2 separate regions of the Homo sapiens genome follow, and region 2 is linked to region 1. A link means that fine-mapping ties the variant in region 1 to the expression of a gene that starts in the linked region. Tissue or cell type: whole blood. Region 1 holds a variant in brackets; the other region holds the start of a gene. All regions are shown on one strand. Distances are from middle to middle.

Region 1 (2,687 bases):
TTTCCAGCTAGTGCGTCCCACAGCTGCCACAGTGGGTTACAGGGTTGAAAGAAACGGTCCTCAGCCCTCAGAGTTGCCAGGCAGGGCCTGGGACCACACAAGTTTCAGGGACGATTGCCTCCTTAGCAAGTAGTATCATTAGTACCCCTAAGTGTGCCATGGAAATGTTTCCTGTATACTGTGACCTGGAAAGTGGGAGCATTGCTTTGAACACAGTGCTTGCTCTAGCCAAGCCTCTTCTCACCTTTGAAAATGGGACTGGTAGACCAGGCACAGTGGTGCACGCCTGTAATCCCAGCACTTTGGGAGGCTGAGATGGGTGGATCACCTGAGGTCAGGAGTTCGCAACCAGCCTAACATGGTGAGACCCCGTCTCTACTAAATACAAAAAAATTAACTGGGCGTGGTGGCGCGTGCCTGTAATCCAAGCTACTTAGGAGGCTGAGACAGGAGAATAGCTTGTACCTGGGAGGCGGAGGTTGCAGTGGGCTGAGATCATGCATTGCACTCCAGCCTGGGCAACAAGAGTGAAATTCAGTCTCCAAAAAAAAAAAAAGAAAAGAAAAAGAATGGGACTGGTAAATCCTGTTCTGTGGGATGCCGTGGGAGGGAGAGAGGATAATGGATTGAGGAAGACATCCATATCCCCTTATGGAAAATACCTCTTTGGTTTTGGGGAACCACTCCTTTCTAGGGAATTTGGTTAGGGCTGACTCATTTCCTGGCTTCAGGGGCTACCCTGGGCCCAGATTTCCAGGGCCCGGATTACCAGTGAAGCGTCAATCCCTGGATTTTTATTGAAACCATTGGAGAAGAGCCATCTCAAATAAATCTGCCAAGTATCCTAGCTCTTTGCAACTCACTGTGTAGTTTTTGGGCATTTCCTTCCTCTTTCTCATTCTGTTTCCCTGTTGGTAAAATGGAATGGTGACCAACAAGTGACCTATGGTTACCTCATAGATCTGCCACTTGTCTGAGGGAGTCAGAATGCACTTGTCTGTTCCCTGTCCAATAAAAGGCTTCACAT[G/A]CTGTGGTTTGTGCTTTATTTTTAGGCTCAATTCAGCTAGAGGCACACAACAAAGCAGAAGACAGGAGTAGGCCTGGACCCAAGTGAAGCGCAGGTGGGGTGTGAATCCTAGGCAGCTGGCTTCTCAGGCATAGGTGGTGACATACTGGGGCCCCATGTTCCCGAAGTAGGAACGTTCCCACTCACTCATGAGCTCAAAGTGTACAGGACGGCGACAGAAATTGCAGGCAGCCACAGACACATCCTGGAGGGGCAGCCCCACCGCAGTCCAAGCCAGCAGCAGCTTCTCTGAAGGTGGTAGGGGGAGGGGAGGGAAAAAATGGGTTAGACTAGATCTTCCAAATCTGTCACAGTACAGATGAGCCAAGATATTGATCCCCCTCAACCCTTCAAGATACCTCAGGGCCAGAAGTAGCCTACTGTTTGCTTCTGTGTGTGCCGTGAATATTACCATTTGTATCTGGATGCTGGGATATATATTATAAAAGATTTGGAAGCTCTCCTTTGACACAATTTGAAGCCATACTGTCCTGGCCTGGACCACTCCCTAAGTATAGGATGTGCTGTGGCCCAAGAATGACTGTCTGCTTGGGAACTCTAAGCCCTATGAGGACAATGATAATGACAGTAACTATACTGTGTCATTGGTGCTATGACCAGGAAACCTGGGGTAGGGGGTCCACCTGGGGGTGTGAAAACCCAGAGAAGGGAACCTGACCTAGCTGGAGGAAGTACCCCAGGTACGTTCCAGGGCTCTGTTCTTGGCCTTTTCTGTGTTCATGCCCTTGTTGATCTTGTCTAGTCACATGACTTTAAAGACCATCTATATGCTGATGGTTCAGAAATTTTAATCTCCAGCTCACGCCACTCTACTGGTTTCCAATCTTGTATATCCAATGGCTTTTCTCCATCTCCACCTAGATGTCTAATATGCATTTCTAACTTAGGAGTACAACTGAGCTACTCATGTCCCTACCCTCCACCAAGCTATTCTACTTTTAGCTTTTCCCATCTCAGTGGATGGCAATTCCAGTTGCTCAGTCCAAAAATTTCAGAGCTATCCTTTATTTTTCTCTTTCTCTCTTACCCTATATCCCATCTATCAGCAAAGACCCTTGGCTCTACCTTCAAAATCTGACCACTTCTTATTGCCTTCATTATGATCAAGTCTGAGCCACCATCATCTCTCACCTGGGATATTACTGTAGCCCACTCTTGGGTCTCCCTGCTTCCACCCTTGCTCCCTTTTAGTGTATTCTCTACATAGAAGTTGGAGCAATTTTGTTAAAACCCGAGTCAGAAATATCAGTCCTGTGTTCAAATCCTTTCAAGGGCTCTCAGAGTAAAAGCCAAACTCCTTCTAATGGCCTACCATACCCTATACAATCTGGTCCCACATTGCCTCTATGTACTCAATTTTTCTGTCTCCCACTTGCTTATACCATTCCACCCACACCCATCTTCTTACTGTTCCTCAAATATAAAAGGAATACTCCTGTGTCTTCCCTGCCTTAGGATGTTCCCTCTGCCTGCGATGCCATTCCCTTAGATATCTGCCTCACTAACTTCACCTCCTTCAAATTTTTGCTCAAGTTTCACCTCAGCGTCTTCTACCCTTGCCACTCTAATACTACAACCCTTCTCTGAACTCGCCCCTGGC
Region 2 (2,687 bases), 21 kb after region 1:
CTTAACCATTATGGATCTGTGATTCAAATATTACTACCTTTTTTTCTTGACTGAGGGCCTGACTCTAGACATTTATCTCCTCTGCTGCACTAACATAGGCCTCTTTCCAGGTCATATGCCATTTGTCACCAATGCCTTACCAAAGGAACAGATCTGTAACTACAGTGGAATTTCAGGTACTGTTGAATATTCATTTACTCTACCATTCAATAACTTATGTACCTAATGTGTGATAATGCTTGCCAGGCATCTTCTTAAAACAATACTTTTAACCAAAGAGATGATGGTGAAATTTGAGACCAAGTAACAGATCATTACTGAAAGTTTTTCCCTACGACTTTAAAATCCTCTCTTGTGTCAGCACCCAATCTGTACTCCCAGAGGTGAAAAGGGCCAACTGCAACTCTACCCCAGCAGACAGCCAGAAAACACTCATTGCAGCATTCCTTGTCCCCCACCCCCCCACCCCTTTTGTGGCCTGCTTTGCAAAAGTCAATTAGGTCTGGAAGGGAAGTGGTAATTTCTCTTCAGGAGTTGGAAACATCAGGCCTTACTTCTCTTCCTAGTACCCCTTTCCCACCATGAAAGAATCATACAGAACTTTAGATAACTGTAATCAGAGAATCAGAAATTCTTAGAAACAGGAAAATTTAGAAGATCACAAAATCAAAACTAGAAAGGGTGGTGGAAATTACAGGCCAAGCCTTTTTTTCAGAGAGTGAATGACTTGCCTAGGGTCTCACAGTGAATTAGGATGAGAATAGAAATCTGTTTACTTTCTGTATAGTGACACTACATTCCTCTTCCACTTTCTTCACTTATTTCTGCTAATTATTCATCTCTCAATTCCCCAAATCTCTCCTTACCCAATTCATCATTCCCATCACCCCCACATCCTCTTAGTTTCCCTCCCTAGCTCTTCCCCCACCCCTAGGCTCCCCATGGGCTCTGACCCACTGAGCTCTGCTGTCAGCCCAGCAGGTAGAGGGAGTCAAAGGGAGAGAGGAATGGGGAATTGCAGGAAGAAATATTAAGCCATCGTTCTTGATAGAGAGGAAGAGAGAGACAGAAACACAGAGACGGAGAGATACAAAGCCGAGGAAAGAGACAAAAAGGGGGAGAGAAAGAAATTTAGAGAAAAAGATAGTTAGAATTCAGAGGGAAAAATAAGAGAAAGCAAGAGTGTCAGAGAATGATGAAATGAAATGAATGATCTTGAAAACTAACAAAAGAAAGTAACGAAGGGAAAAAGAGAGAAAAAAGCTGAAAATGAGGAAAGACAGAAAGAGACATGGGAGATAAAAAGAAAATGAAAAAGAGACAGATTCTAAGAAACAAACAAAGGAAAAAGTCAGATCTACTCAGACCAGAGAGTCAGTGTGTACAGCCCTGAGAGACCAGCTGGCAGACCAGAGATAGGGTGCCAGGCTGAAAGCAGCTCTTACCTGTTGCCCTGCACTGAGGACGAACGAATGACAGGTGGGTACTTGGGTTAGGACCTGGCATTTATCCCTTCTCCTCTGACTCAGCCCCACCCACCCTGCCTTCTGCCGGCCTGGCCCTGCATTGGCCCCAAAGGTATCTCAGTCCCTTCCTTGCTAGAGATAAAACCCAAAGTAGCCCCTCCCTCTAGTGTACCCCCTCCCCCAGCTCTGGCTCTTCCCTATTTTCTTCTCTCTATAGGACAGTAAAATTAGCTCATTTGGGCTTTGGAATCAGACCATCCACATAGAGCTGGGATACCTTGAGCAAAACCACCTCTCTGACTATAGATCTCCTCAACTATAAAAGGAGGGCAATAAAACCCAGAAGTGACTGTGGCACAAGTTGGGAGGGCTCTGGAGTCAGACCTAGAATACAGTGTTGTGCTTATGAGCTCAAACAGTCAGCTTCCACAGACTAGATCCCCGGTTGTTGTAACAATTTGGTAATATCATGTATGGAAAACGCATACCACAGTGCCTGGCCCAAATAAATAACACCTACTGTTGACTGAGTGCTTACAATGCACCAGACCCTTCACTAAGTGCTTTACATGAATTAATTTAGCCACATAAGGACCTTAAAAGATAGGTACTATTATCCCTATGTTACAGATGAAGAAACTGAGGCTCAGAGAGGTGAGGTAACTTGTTGATAATTACCCAACTAGAAAGTACAGAGCCCGCCTATGAACCTAGGCAATGTAGTTACAGAACCCACACTCTTCTCTTCCTCTCATAATATACAATTAAAAATGTGAAGTTCTCTGTCTTATCTTTTCTATTACCTTCTCCTCCCTTTTTCATTTTCTTCCCCTTTTGTCACTCTCTTTTTCCCCTTCCCTTATCAATCCTAAGGCAGCAGGACCATGTTATAACCAGACAATTTCATCTTTAGAGCAGATTGTCATCATTAATATTATATTTACATAAATAAGACCATAGTCTACATATTGATTTGCAATTTCTTTTTTTTGTTTGTTTTTCATTCAACCATATGCCAATATACCATGGAGGTTACAAAATCTGAATGCACTGTAATTTATTTAAACACTCCCTTATTGATATAAATTTAGGTTATTCCCAAGGATTTTCCCCCCTCCATTATGATTAATGTTGCAATGAACATCTTTTGGCATTTGTGAGAGCATTTTTTTAGAGGGTGGCATCCTAAAATATAAGCATTCCTGGATCTAAAGGTAATAG

What was found. PIP is the estimated chance that this variant, and not a neighbour inherited with it, causes the effect. A credible set is the group of variants that fine-mapping cannot tell apart.
Region 2: it holds the start of ALAS2, and the variant in region 1 is the best candidate, but not a certain one, in a credible set for the expression of ALAS2 in whole blood (TOPMed, PIP 0.90).

What each region holds. Positions count from the first base shown.
Region 1 is chrX:55,008,029-55,010,715 of GRCh38, forward strand. APEX2 (apurinic/apyrimidinic endodeoxyribonuclease 2) reads left to right here. Exons shown (of 6, transcript NM_014481.4): 6 at 1-1,029. It overlaps ALAS2 (5'-aminolevulinate synthase 2), which reads right to left. Exons shown (of 11, transcript NM_000032.5): 11 at 1,027-1,315. The coding sequence ends at 1,152. Among named protein-coding and RNA genes, the nearest start is that of APEX2, 9.0 kb to the left of the region's middle. RefSeq lists an enhancer at 1-42. The variant G/A (reference allele first, on the strand shown) is at 1,028.
Region 2 is chrX:55,029,497-55,032,183 of GRCh38, forward strand. ALAS2 (5'-aminolevulinate synthase 2) reads right to left here and starts at 1,481. Exons shown (of 11, transcript NM_000032.5): 1 at 1,446-1,481. It also overlaps a transcript of PAGE2B not described here. RefSeq lists an enhancer at 1-1,486.